2 linked regions of the Homo sapiens genome follow. The protein of the gene in region 1 interacts with the protein of each later gene in a biochemical or structural test. Each region holds a gene or a part of one and is shown in the gene's direction. Other genes may lie near its edges.

Evidence for each region. Proteins that work in one complex are often made in the same cells at the same time.
Region 2: the proteins of TNKS (region 1) and TNKS1BP1 form a complex in vitro, tested with the Homo sapiens proteins (2 studies listed by BioGRID).

Annotation. Positions count from the first base shown.
Region 1 is NC_000008.11:9,551,797-9,558,911, forward strand, and holds the start of TNKS (poly [ADP-ribose] polymerase tankyrase-1), read left to right. Parts: upstream 1-4,115; 5' UTR 4,116-4,143; coding exon 4,144-4,816; intron 4,817-7,115.
Region 2 is NC_000011.10:57,300,907-57,307,952, reverse strand, and holds part of TNKS1BP1 (182 kDa tankyrase-1-binding protein), read left to right. Parts: intron 1-4,857; coding exon of another isoform or gene 4,858-4,984; exon of another isoform or gene 4,985-5,088; intron 5,089-5,127; coding exon 5,128-5,494; intron 5,495-5,728; coding exon 5,729-5,879; intron 5,880-6,009; coding exon 6,010-6,146; intron 6,147-6,911; coding exon 6,912-7,046.

The DNA of each region.
Region 1 (7,115 bases):
CCTTTAACCACCTCTCTGCCCGGAACTAACTCTCTGCCTGGAACTAACACTTCAAATTAAACCGACTACCCATGAGCGTACAGACCATAGCCAGAAAAAATCCAAGTTATCTCAGTGCAGGCTACAGATGTCTTTGGAGCAGCAGCCAGAAGACCCTGGTATGTAAGAGCTATCTTATAAAGCTACTAAAACTTTAATGGGAGAGTTGCTAAGAAACTGATACAGAGGATATCTTTAAATTACTGTAATTTTGCTGTCTTGTAATAAGTTGTTTTACCTGTTTTTTTTTTGGTAAAGCTTTTTCTGATACAATGTTGTTAGTACGATTGCAGCTGTTGGCATCATTGCCCATCTGTGGTTTTGTAAAAAAATATTCACCTGGGTTTCTGGATGGAACTTCAACTAAGAGAACGCAACACTTTTATAGAGAAATCTGGGCCCTTGGCACCATAGACATTTCTGACATAAAAATAACTTATTATGTTTCGGTAAGACCAAAAATGAGGAAATGACATGCCTCAGCCAAACCACAGCTCTGGCTTGTGCTCGTGGATTTGCGGAGGAGGCATTGCAGAGGGGATCGAAGAATAACTAGACTTAGTAGAAATACTACCAGAATACCAAATACGGTGGGAGATCAATGGGAAGTATATGGATGGAATGACACACCAATTCCAGTTGAAATATGGAACTTGTGCAAGTTCATGATTGTGTAATTTTCAGAGTGTCCATGCGAACCCCATAGGGTAAGAAAGCAAACATCAGAACACAGCCCAAAAGATCGGTGTCCTTTGAGTTGGTGGCTTTTCTTTTGTGTCAACAGTATAGCCTAAGAGAGTGCTATGTGCTCCCATTTTTGTAGTACTTGGGTATACTTTGTGTGTGTGTGTGTGTGTGTGTGTGTGTGTAGACAGGGTCTCACTTTGTTGCCCAGGCTGATCTTTGATCTTGATTTTTTGGGATCAAGCATTCTCCTGCCTCAGCTTCCCAAAATGCTGGGATTATAAGTGTGAGCCACTGTACTCGGCCAGGATATTGTTTTTGTGAAAACGCTTATGAAAATAAGATACTACACACCTGTGATCAACAATAGTTTAGAGACAGAGTTTATAAAGAATCCTGAATTATCAGATAAGGAAAGAATTAAACCTAATGTTTCTTTGCTTTAGATTCCCATTCTGTGTAAAACGATGGATATTTATTCCCAGCCCCTATCTTTGTCACAAAGGAAGTTGCGAGGGGAAAGCTATCAATAGTGGCTGTGAGTTCATGTTAACACTTTATGCATGCCATGTAAGAGAACGGATCTAACATTCAAAGAGTGCTTAAAAAACACCTAGGCTTTTAATCCTCATGACAGTGCTAAACTAAGGTCAACATTTTAGGCTGAGAGAGCTGAAGCATACCTATCAAGATTAGCCAACTAGTAATCATCAGAGATGTGACTTTCAAGCCCAGGTTTGTTTGACCCCAAGCTTTGCTCTTTCCACTATGATATAGTGCATTCCTCCTGGAATTGTGTTTAGCCACAGAAGATTAGGTAATAGCATGTGTCCTTTCATGTTTGGAGCTCAACATTAGTCGGTATAAACCCAAACTTCATAAATACTTAATGTTAAGTACTTTTCCTACTTTCTGCTCGAGGGGAAGAAAGCAATTTCCAGTTGATTGAATGCATTTCCAGACATGGTTTTCCAGTCCAGTTTCAGGCAATTTAGTTTTTTGTTTTTTGTTTGTTTGTTTGTTTTGCTGAGACAATGTTGCTCTGCCACCCAGGCTGGAGTGCAGTGGCACGATTTCGGCTCACTGCAACCTCTGCCTCCTGGGTTCAAGCCATCCTCCTGCCTCAGCCTCCGCAGTAGCTGGGATTACAGGCGCGCACCACCACGCCCAACTAATTTTTGTATTTTTAGTAGAGATGGGGTTTCCTCATGTTGGCCAGGCTGGTCTGGAACTCCTGACCTCGTGATCTGCCCACCTTGGCCTCCCAAAGTGCTGGGATTACAGGTGTGAGCTACTGGGCCTGGCCGGCAATTTAGTTTTTAAAAATCTCTGTCCAGCAGAGACTTCCTTATTTTATTGTTATTATTATTTTTTGTACTGATAGACACAACAGATGCATTTTGAATAAGTCTGAACATCACTACTTTCTATGAGTAACTGACCACTGGGAGACCAGATGAGATATTTCTTATGCCTCCCATTCCAGGAGGCCATTATTTAGGGGACACATGGTGTGTTATGGATATCTAACATATCATGTTGGATCACTCCCACTTCTCAATGGTTCTCTGCTGTACATCAAGAAGTTAAGATTAAAAAACAGAAGCATGAAGAAGAATGTTGTGGACTGATTTTAGTTGCACTGATGTGAGTTTTCCTATCCAGCTACACTTTTTGTCCGGTGTCTACTGCGAACAATGGCACATTTCATCACACAGCTGGATAATGTTAAGAATTATAATCTGTAACCCCAGATTAGATGAAAATAAATGCCACTCGTAATACTAATTATGTTCCTGACCTTATTGTATTTACTTACTAACCCCAAATAAACTCATCTATTTACTTAAATGGGAATATTAACATCACATAAATCATATTTAACAATGAACACATGAAACAATTTATCACCTAGTTTAATATTCTGCTTGACTCATCTAAATCTTGTTTCTCTTACAGAATTTCCATCTGTGTCCACTCTATTGGAATAATGCTGTTTCTGTATACTTCTACAATGCCTGCTTTACTATTGAACAGTAGGTATGAAATGGAGTCCTCAATGGGATTATCTCATTCATGGATACATCTTTTGATAGTAGAAAAACAAAAGTATACATAGGTTGGGGGAAAGACAGAAAAAGCAGTTGCTGAAAAATAGCACCTGATGGTGAGTAATGGACAGCAATCAGGTTTTTGTTATGTTTTCTTGTTGTTTTTGTGACAGGGTCTCCGCCCTCTGTCACCCAGGCTGGAGTGCAGTGGTGTGACCTCGGCTCACAGCAACCTCTGCCTCCCGGGCTCAAGTGATCCTCCCAACAGACTCCTGAGTAGCTGGGACTACACGCATGTGCCACTTTGCCCAGCTAATCTGTGTATTTTTTGTAGAGATGGAGCTTCGCCGTGATGGCCAGGCTGATCTTGAACTCCCGGGCTCAAGTGGCCCGCCGGCCTCGGCCTCCCAAAGTGCTAGGATTACAGGCATGAGCCACCGTGACCAGCCTAGCAATCAGGTTTTTATCTGTTTCGGGTGTGGGAGAGGCTAAGCTAAGCCAGAATTCAAAAGAAAGGAATATATTCATAATTAGTTACACTTAGGGTGAAAAATAAAATTTCAGAGAGAGCAGAATAGGAAAAAAAAATCATAATTTTAATAATTCACACTTATTGCACTATTGTTATTTCAATTTTACAGAGAAAAACAGGCATAGAGTGATGAAATAGCAAGTACATATATAAACAACAAATGGCAGAGCTGGAACGCCAATCCTAGCAATCTGAACCAGCATTTAAAAACGAGGAATTAAAGCACATAGGGTGAGAAAAATTATAGGGAAGGGACAAGAGCTCAAGGGGACACCTGGAAAAGAAATACTATAATTTAAAAAATTACCAACGGGCTAATTATACTTGTGTTTTACTGGCAGAGCGCTTTGTCTGTTAGCTCTTTTAATCCCGCTAATAATTCTGTGAGGTTGGTACTATAAGTTCCATTTTTCAGACAAGGACGCTTAATAGATGATAACGGACACATTCCCTGCTTGCTCTGATCTGCATCTCAACAGCTGGCTCTGGAGCAAGCAAAGGGAGACTAAGGGAAACAGAGCGGAGCAGGGCAAAGAAAGCCGACTGAAAGTGAGAAATGCAGGAAATGTTTCCCATCTAGGCAGAAGCTGGTTCCAGCATTCAAATCTCTCCAGCCGGCCCGCCACCACGTCACAAAGCCCGCCTCTCAGTGACAAAGCCCCGCCCCGTTCCCTTGGCTGTTCTCTGAGCTCCCAATACTTCCCTCCTTCTCTTTGGCCCCTGCTACCCCGCCTAGCATCATTTCCTGTGCGCTGGATGCTGATTGGTCCGACAGTCGGAAGTGAGGGCGGGCGGTGGGGGCCGTTGCCGCAGTGACAGTGCTAGGGGAGTCCGAAGATGGCGGCGTCGCGTCGCTCTCAGCATCATCACCACCATCATCAACAACAGCTCCAGCCCGCCCCAGGGGCTTCAGCGCCGCCGCCGCCACCTCCTCCCCCACTCAGCCCTGGCCTGGCCCCGGGGACCACCCCAGCCTCTCCCACGGCCAGCGGCCTGGCCCCCTTCGCCTCCCCGCGGCACGGCCTAGCGCTGCCGGAGGGGGATGGCAGTCGGGATCCGCCCGACAGGCCCCGATCCCCGGACCCGGTTGACGGTACCAGCTGTTGCAGTACCACCAGCACAATCTGTACCGTCGCCGCCGCTCCCGTGGTCCCAGCGGTTTCTACTTCATCTGCCGCTGGGGTCGCTCCCAACCCAGCCGGCAGTGGCAGTAACAATTCACCGTCGTCCTCTTCTTCCCCGACTTCTTCCTCATCTTCCTCTCCATCCTCCCCTGGATCGAGCTTGGCGGAGAGCCCCGAGGCGGCCGGAGTTAGCAGCACAGCACCACTGGGGCCTGGGGCAGCAGGACCTGGGACAGGGGTCCCAGCAGTGAGCGGGGCCCTACGGGAACTGCTGGAGGCCTGTCGCAATGGGGACGTGTCCCGGGTAAAGAGGCTGGTGGACGCGGCAAACGTAAATGCAAAGGACATGGCCGGCCGGAAGTCTTCTCCCCTGCACTTCGCTGCAGGTCAGAGACTTTTGAATTGTTTATTAAGGGTTATGGGTTTGGGTGCAGGGTCCGGTTAGGACAAGAAAACAGGTTATTGTGATGGGACAAAGTGGGGGCGTGGTTATGGTTCTTCATCACCTCACCAGAAGACTGGAGGTTCCTTTCTTTTGGTGGTGCCTGGGTGATGGGGGCGTGGTTGGGGGGGATAAGTGAATCCAAGGAATTCTTCAGTGGTTGCACAGTACTCATTACAAAACTCACTGTAGTTGGTAGTCTCTGCATATGGATATATTTACACTTTAGTTTTTGGTGTGCAGGAATACAGTTAGATTTGGACAGCTTTAGAGTAGTTTTGTCGTTTGTGTGCTAGTTTATTTTGTTTTTACAAGGGTATGTCCTTTGAGGACAGTCCAGACCAAAAGAGGTTTAATACAACCCAACACATGTTTGAGGATCTATTGTAGCCTTAATAACCCAATGAAAGACATAAATGAAGTGTTTGAAAGTTTCCCTTCTTCTAAAGAAGTTTGCAGTCTAGACGGGGAGACCAAAATATGCCAATGTGAAACAACTGGAGAAGAATATTTGGATGCATTATATGATGATGGAAGAAATATAGGCTTTGATGTTGTGGCCACTATTATTTGTTGTCTAGCAGACCATTTACCTCGTGTCAGTTGCCTCAGTTTTCTCATGGGCAAAAATCATAAAATGATGTTGTGCGAGCATTTGGTGAGAAGTATCTGGCACAAAGTTCTCCCTCAAAAAGTGTGAATTTCTTAAGCTCTGGACCCCACACTTGTCTTTTTTTTTTTTTTTGCAAGTAGTTGATGATTTTCTCTCAAAGACACCTAATAATATGTTTATAAAATAAAGAGAACTGTAAAATAAAAACAAAGGACCATAATCTCACTGCCTGGATACCTATTGTTGATATTTTAAAAATGTAGGTAATAATGTTTTATACATTAGAAACATTATATTGGAAATACATATATTGTACGTTATACAATTCAAATAGGACAGAAAAATACAAAATGAAAGGCATCACACAGAAACATCAGAGATAACACACCAGAGATAACTTCTGTTAAGTTTCTCCTATATTTCTAATATATATATATATCACTTCTTCAGTTTGTTCTGTTAACAGTAAAACATGTGTTGACCCACTGTAGTATTTATTTTTACCACACTTGGGAGATATGATTAACCATTTTACAGATGACAAAAGTGAAGCATATATCGATCGCTTAAATAAGTCCAAATTCAGTCAGGAAATAGTGGAAATTGAGTTTGAATTCAGGCAGTTTGATTTTAGAGCTTGTGAAATCAAACTTAAACTGTCAGAACCCTGGATTAAGGTCACTTTTCATTTTTGTGAGTAATTGAAGTGTAGAGTTCCCAATTTTTGGGAGAAGTAGTAATGCGGAGGGGCTTATATGCAAGAGAGTAGCTTTCACATGTTTTTTATTGTAGCCCATACTTAGAAATACATTTTACATTGTCACATACGCAACTGAATCAAAAGTTTCTGGAAACAATACTTTCCCTTAATACATGTGTTGTCCTCTGATATTTTATATTTTATTCTGTTTCATTTTTAGCAAATGCTGCTTGTGATCCATTAATGGGTCGTGACCAGTGGTATGAGAAACACTTAAAGGAAATCATTGTTAGGTCACTGGATTCATTATTGATATACAGACACTACTTATTAGGAATGCAGTGAATTGAATCAGAAACAGACTTTTGCCTATTTGTTTGCTCAAGGGTCTTGCTTGTTTTAGATGAAATAGCATTTCTTTTTCCTTAGGCTAAATGAAAGGCCTAAGTCTGATTTTATTAATCAACAGAGGTGTCTACTTTTGCATACTTTATTCCAAGTTTGCCTATTTTAACAAATTGCGTCACAAATCATGTCATTTCTCACCATCCCACTTTATGCGTAATCACCAATAAATGATAGTTATATTTATGTGTATTAATGTATTTAGGATAAGTCACACAAAATAGTGCTTGTTTCTCAAATCACGTGTCTTCTATTTGCCACAATAGTTACTTGTTATTCTGTTTCAGAGTTTTATGTATATCCAGATAAGCTAGAAGATAAACAATCAAACAGTACCGTAATTATGTTGTAGTTATGACAAGCTAACCTTGAATTGGCTTTTTAAGAAAGTTTTTAGCTCAGTTGTGGAAAACACAGTAATAAAATTCTCGATATGAAAACATAATGTCCTGTAGTCAGTTTGCCACGCTTCCGTGATTGAATTCGTAACATTAAAGTTTTATTAAACTTTAGTCTTCTTTATCA
Region 2 (7,046 bases), on another chromosome or scaffold:
ACAGTGGAACCCACGGGTTCTCAAAGAGGTTAGGTACTTGGTGCTTCTTGCCTGTCCTGTCTTGAAGCCTGGAATAGCAAGTTCAAGAACCTGAAGGGTATGGGGACCTGGCCCCATGACCTTGGCCTCTGTGCAAATTTGCTGAAAGAACTTTCCAAAGGCTTTGCAAGGCAAGCACAGTCTGTTTCATGGATGTTTTAAAACCAGCTGAGATGGTTTTGCAGCTGAGAAACGTGCTAAAAAGGCATTGCATCCGTTTTGTTAACATTTCCATCCATTGAGATTCGCTTTTATTCCCTTTAGTGAGCAGAAAATGTTACCTTTTCCAGCCCCACAGTGGGAGCTTCTCACTGGGTATGTGGGGAAGGCAAGGGAAGTGTGGGGCAGGGGCTTTTATAAGTGGAAGGGGTTGGTGGTGGGAGGAGAGGAGCAGGAAGGGGCTAGAGCATATCATGGTGGTCTTGGGGACTCTGGAGAGGCATTTGGGATGGAGGAGGAGAAGGGAGAGAGGAAGATGGGCCCAGTGAGATGCCCAGGGGGATTTGAGGAAGTGGAGCTTCCTGACGACTCAGGCTGTTGACGGGGTGGTGACGGAGCACAGGGAACCACTGAGGCTGCATTGAGGACTGCAGGGACGAGGGGAGGGCGCAGGACTAGGAGTTGGGAGGCCCTTGTGGTCCTGGGCAGGTTGCTGGGCTCTGAGCCTCAGTTTCTCAGGGTTTGACTCAGGAAGTGCAGAGTTCCAGCTTTAATGTTCTTGGTGCAGGGGAGAGTCCAGGCTTGGCGTGGTTGTTCCTGATTTCTCTTCCTGGGACTCATAGAACTTTGCACACCCCATGCTTAACCACACGTCTTACCTCATTGATCTTCACAGCTGCTCTGTGAAGCAGGAAAGTGATTTTTATCCTCTCCGCTGGAGGGTCGAAAGGTGGTGTGACCCCTTAAGGGCAAAGAGTCAGGAGTACCTCTTTCTCACTTGTATATGTTAACTGCTTTCAGGTGTGGCCACTGTGGGACCACTGCCCCCCTCCCACCCAACCCCCCCCCCCACCACCACAGCTCTCTGCCTTTCCGTTCTGTGTGGGGTGGCTCTTAAGAAGTGGAAAGTGATCATCTTGTTCCCTTAGTTTAGGATGGAGGGAGGTGGGGCGGGGATTGTGATGGGACTAGGTTAGGGGAAGAGGAGGATAGTGTCATCATTGTGTCTTTAAAACACCCAGGCTTTTGTGGTTGTGTTACCGTAATCTGGCCAGTGTTGACTTTAACCCGAGTTCAGGGGTTAGCCGTGATGCCATACAGGTGAGCCTCATTGTATGCAACAGAAAGCGTGGCTCCTAACAGAAAGCACGGCTCCTCAAAAAGCCGAACGAAAACAGTTGCTTTAGAGAGGAGTTCGAGGGGCTTGTTTGAATTTTATGCTTTCGGGCAGCCTTTTCTAAAATGTGTCCTAAAGAATACCAGTCTGTGAATATGTTTGGAAAATGCTGGGTACTCTGTGGCCGTACAGAAGACTTAGTCTGTATATTAGCATATATTAGTACCTTAAAGACAAGTAATGCAGTATTTTCCAAGCTAATTTGGCTAATGTCCAAGAACCTAGTGTTCTGAGCAGGGAAATTCTGATGTAGGGAAATTCTACACTATGGGCACTTTCTCTTTTTTTTTTTGAAACGGAGTCTTGGTCTATCGCCCAGGCTCCCAGCCTGAAGTGCAGTGGTGCGATCTTGGCTCACTGCAACCTCTGCCTTCTGGGTTCAAGCGATTCTCCTGCCTCAGCCTCCTGAGTAGCTGGGAATACAGGCGCACATCACCACGCCCGGCTAATTTTTGTATTTTTAGCAGAGATGGGGTTTCACCATGTTGGCCAGGCTGGTCTTGAACTCCAGACAGACCTCAGGTGATCCACCCACCTCGGCCTCCCAAAGTGCTGGGATTACAGGCATGAGCCACCATGCCTGGCCCACTATGGGCACTTTCTCTTTAAAGAAAATTTTGGAGGTTCCCTTTGTAACGAGAAGTCCTTGAGAATAGCTCAGAGGGGTCTGGCTCTGGGTCCATCTGCCAGGCTTGCGTTCTGATTCTGTCACCACCTCTGTGACCTTGGGCAAGTTTGTTCTCTTCTGCGGGCCTCCGATTCCTCGTCTGTAAGTTGGGAGTAACTTACTCCCAGTACTCATGGGGTTTTGTTAATTGTTCCTCACAAAAACTAGGGAAACTGAGACCCAGAGAGGCAGTGTGACTTGCACCGGTTCCCACGGCTGGTGGCTGTGGGTTCTTCTTGTCTCCCTGGGCCCAAGCCGTGCAGTCTTCTCTGGGCACCCTCCCTGTCTCTCTGGGGTCAAGGTCAGCTGCTATTTCTCTAGACACATCTTTCCAGCTTCACCCCTCCCTCATTTCAGGTCTCAGAACACTGGGATATTCACGTTTTGTAGTTCCAGCGCCATGTTTGCCTCTGGAGCAGTGGTGGAGGGTGGGGTGGGATACCGTCTTGGTCCTCAGGGTACTCTAAAGTTTAGACCAGGTGAAGGGTGTAGATGCGACAAGATGAGGCACATCCTCTCTGGCCAGGGACCCGTGTTGAGGATGATAATGACTATCCTAATAATTTGTTGTATTTGTCAAGTGCTAACTATGTGTTAGGCACATATTTCTGCCAACAAACTAGAACAGTTTATGTACTTTTATTATCCCCATTTTACAGATAAACTGAGGTTCAGAGTGGGACAAATAACTTGTGGTCAAAGCCACAGGCATAGGAGGAGACAGAGCCTAGCTGTGTCCTGGAGTGGCAGGACTCAGTCCCTGTGTTCCTAACTACCCCTCTTTCCTGCTCCCATGCCGGGAGGGGCTCAGCTTATACATGATCTGGGTGCTTAGGGGTAGGAAAGCTGCTTCTAAGATGGGGTGAAGGGCGAGTGGGGTTTAGTCCGGCGGGGTGGACGTAGCTGCACTTTCTTGGGTTTTCCCCACTCGCCACTCTCTGCTCCTCAAGGCCACCTCCAGAGCTCACTGACCTCTGCCTGAGTGGCTTGGGCCACCTCTCGCTTTAGGAGTGGATTTTTTTTTTTTTTTTTTTTTTTGAGACGGAGTTTTGCTCTTGTTGCCTGGGCTGGAGTGCAGTGGCGCGGTCTTGGCTCACTGCAACCTCCACCACCCGGGTTCAAGCGATTCTCCTGCCTCAGTCTCCCCCAAGAAGCTGGGATTACAGGTGCCTGCCACCATGCCTGGCTAATTTTTGTATTTTTAGTAGAAACAGAGTTTCACCATGTTGTCCAGGCTGGTCTGGAACTCCTGACCTCAGGTGATCCGCCTGTTTTGGCCTCCCAAAGTGCTGGGATTACAGGCGTGAGCCAGGGCATTTCACATCTCTTTAGCTCATGGGGCCTGCCCTTAGCCTTCTTTTGCCCCACCCCAGGGAGAGGCTTTGGGCCTGGCCTCTGTAGTCTGGGTGGGGTGCTGTTGCCACCCCCTCCCTCCAAATTCTCCCTGATTTTAAGCTGGCTGTCAGGGTGAGCTGGCTTTGGCCCCCAGCCAGGGCTGCTCCCAATTCTGCTGCCTTGCTGTACTTCTGCTGCCGCCACTGCCTCCTCCCCCAATGTCTCTCCCCAGACCACTTTAATTTCCATCTGTCAGCAGCTTGTGGAAGGACAGACTACCACTCATGCTCTCTCTCCCTGCCCCCTCTTCCTGCTTGGTATTGACTCACCTGCCCCACTCTCCTCCTGCTTTAATCCCAGTGGGAACCTGGGGCCTGGCTTCCAGGCACTGCCGTGCCAGGCTTTCCCACACCTCTGTGCGTAGTATGAGTGTGTGTGTGTGGGGTGGGGGTGTGGGGATGCGGGGATGCGTGTGTTTGTGTCAGGTGTGGCTCTGTGCCGTGCCTGTAGATGTGGTGGGTGCGAGGTCCATCTGGGGGAGTGACAAACAGCGCACAAGCTCTCTGCCTGAGTGTGTGTGATGGTGATGAATGTGAATGTGTCATTTTGGGGAGTGGCCGCTGGACAGGGCGGGCAGTATGAGTTAGTGAGAGAGTGTGTGGTGTGCTTGTGCCGTGTTTGTATTTTGTTTTTAGATGGGGTCTTGCTATGTTGCCCAGGCTGGTCTTGAACTCCTGGGCTCACGTGATCCCCCTGCCCTGGCCTCCCAAGTAGCTGGAATTACAGGCGTGAGCCCTGCACCCCATGTCCAGCTGTATTGTGTTTTGAGGAAGCAGCAGACAGAAGATGCATATGCTGCATGGAGGTCCAAGGTGACCCAGCCCCTCATTTGCTTGGCAAACATTTGCTTAGTCCGGCGCGTAGCCAGGCTCTGGGTCAGGTGCTGGGGGCATAAAGGCAGAAAGGGCCCCGTTTTTGCCCTTGAGGAGCTCACCGACAGGCTATGGGGACAAAGAACCACAGGAAAGAAGCAGGAACTGGCATGGATTGGAGCCCAGGGCTGGTAGGGCTGAGGCGGCCATGGTGGCTGGGAGGGGGCAGGGCAGCTTCGGAAGCAGAATTGAACCAAGGGGACAGTACCACCAGGGACGGTGTGGTGCGGGGAGCTTTCCAGAAGAGGGAGCAGCTCGTTCAAAGCCAGCAGCATGTGAGGGCCGGGTGTCTTCTGATGGTCCCTGGTTGCTCTGTGAGCCTGGGGAATGAAGAGGCATAACGTGGGGGCTGAAGACAACATGAGTCCGGAGAGGCAGGTGGGCCAGTACCTGGCTCACCCCAAGGAGTGTGACTGCCCGAGCACGTGGCCCTGGGAGGGAACACATTGCTAGCATGCAACAGCAGCAGGAATAATGGCTGCTGCTTCTGCGGTGCGTGCTGACCAGGACTGTGCTAAGTGCTTTAGATTTTTCTTTCATCCTTGCAGCGACTCCGTGCAGTTAGAGGAGCCTGAGCTGTTTCCAGGGGAGGGGGCTCACCCGAGGTCTCAGGGATTTGAACCTGCCAGACTGGCTCAGCTCTTCACCTGTGTGCTGTGTTGCTCAAGGCCCTGACCGTGTCCTTGGAGTCTGGAAAAAGCATGGGAAGGAGGGCAAGGGAGAGTTTGGGGGCTGGGGGAAGGAGCTTGTGAAGTAGGCTTCAGGGCAGGGAGATGGGGCCTTACGATGATCTCGTTCTCTCTCTGTCCCCTTTACAGCCCTGGCAGGTGCCCGGCCCGCCCCCCACCCTCCGGCTCCCAGGGCCTGCTGGAGGAGATGCTGGCAGCCAGCAGCTCCAAGGCGGTGGCTCGGAGGGAGTCAGCGGCCTCGGGCCTTGGGGGCCTGTTGGAGGAGGAAGGAGCCGGGGCAGGTGCTGCCCAAGAGGAGGTGCTGGAGCCTGGCAGGGACTCTCCACCCTCCTGGAGGCCGCAGCCTGATGGTGAGGCCAGCCAGACAGAAGACGTGGATGGCACCTGGGGCTCTTCAGCAGCCAGGTGGAGCGATCAGGGGCCAGCACAGACTTCTCGGCGACCCTCCCAAGGCCCTCCTGCCAGATCCCCCAGTCAGGACTTCTCCTTCATTGAGGTCAGTGGAGGGTGAGCCCATGACAGTGGGTGGGTGAGGGCGATGCAGCGAGAGCCCCATTCCTGGAGCTTCCCTGAGCAGTCCCAGTCCAGGAGGCAGAAAGCGGGTTGTAGGTGCGTCACGTGAACGTGAAGCTCCGGCTGCAGGAGGGGTCCAGCTCCTGGTCAGCTACTGTTGAGGGGCTCCCGTGGGATGAGGCAGCAATGGCAGTGGTGTCACCATTGCCCCAAGCAGGACACCGAGATCCTCGACAGTGCCATGTATCGGAGCCGTGCCAACTTGGGGCGCAAGCGTGGGCACCGGGCCCCGGTCATTCGGCCTGGGGGTACCTTGGGCCTGTCGGAGGCAGCAGACTCGGATGCACACCTGTTCCAGGACTCTACAGGTAGGGCTGATGTATTATTTGGTGATGTCTCTTGATCTCTAGGGCATTAGGCCAAGCTTTTGCAGGGGTTATGGGTTCGGGGAGTCTGGGTGTGCTGCCTTTTCTGAGCCCCTTTCCCGGGCCTTTGCAGAGCCACGGGCATCTCGGGTGCCATCTTCAGATGAAGAGGTAGTGGAGGAACCTCAGAGCCGCCGGACACGGATGTCGTTGGGCACCAAGGGGCTGAAAGTCAACCTCTTTCCTGGCCTGAGCCCCTCAGCCCTGAAGGTACCATCTGATCATTAAGCAAACATGTCCAGCCATCTGGCCAGGTGGCCACCTTGCATGCTGTCTTTCTTCTCTTCATCCATCAATTCATTCCCCTGTCCCCCTCTCCCATTCCTCCTCTCACTCTCCTCTCCATCGAGGGCTCCAGAAGATCCCTTTGTGCCCCGCCGGGCCCTATGCTGTGTGCCAAATGGGATGGAAAGAAGAACAAGATGTGTTCTTATTCTGGAACCTCAGGGGCAGTGGGAGACATGATGCCCATAATTAGCCTGGATGAGAGAAGAAGTTTAGGTGTCCCTGAGGAGAGGCACAGATAAGGGCTGGGCCTGTTCAGAGAGAGAGGAGTTATTTCCTAACAGCAGAGTGGAGGGGGATGGGAAGGGAGGGTGGATTGGAGAAGGCCTCTTGTATGTATTTGATCTTAGCCGGCGGCAGGCACAGGAGTTGGCTCCTGGAGCTGGGATGGTGGGGTGGCATTGCAGGCAGAGGGAACAGGGGTGGGAAGTCACCACTGGCTTTGTCCCACCCAGTTTGTCTGAATTCAATCCTGCCATATGTTTTTGAGGACAGAAAGGTGTGCAAGGCATAGCTCAGTTCTGCGGGAAGTGCATCTCTAAGTGACTTCCCATCCTTTGGGGTGAAAGGACTGCAGAGGGGTCTCTGCTTGATTCTGGGGACTGCACACTCTTGAGATAAGGTCTTACCCCCTGAGAGTCCTACTGCCTGTCCCTCTACTATCTATCTGCTTCTGGACTTGCTTCTCAGGCCAAGCTGCGCCCCCGGAATCGCTCAGCTGAGGAGGGAGAGCTGGCTGAGAGCAAGTCGAGCCAGAAGGAGTCCGCGGTCCAGCGTTCGAAATCCTGCAAGGTCCCAGGACTGGGAAAGCCCCTCACGTTACCT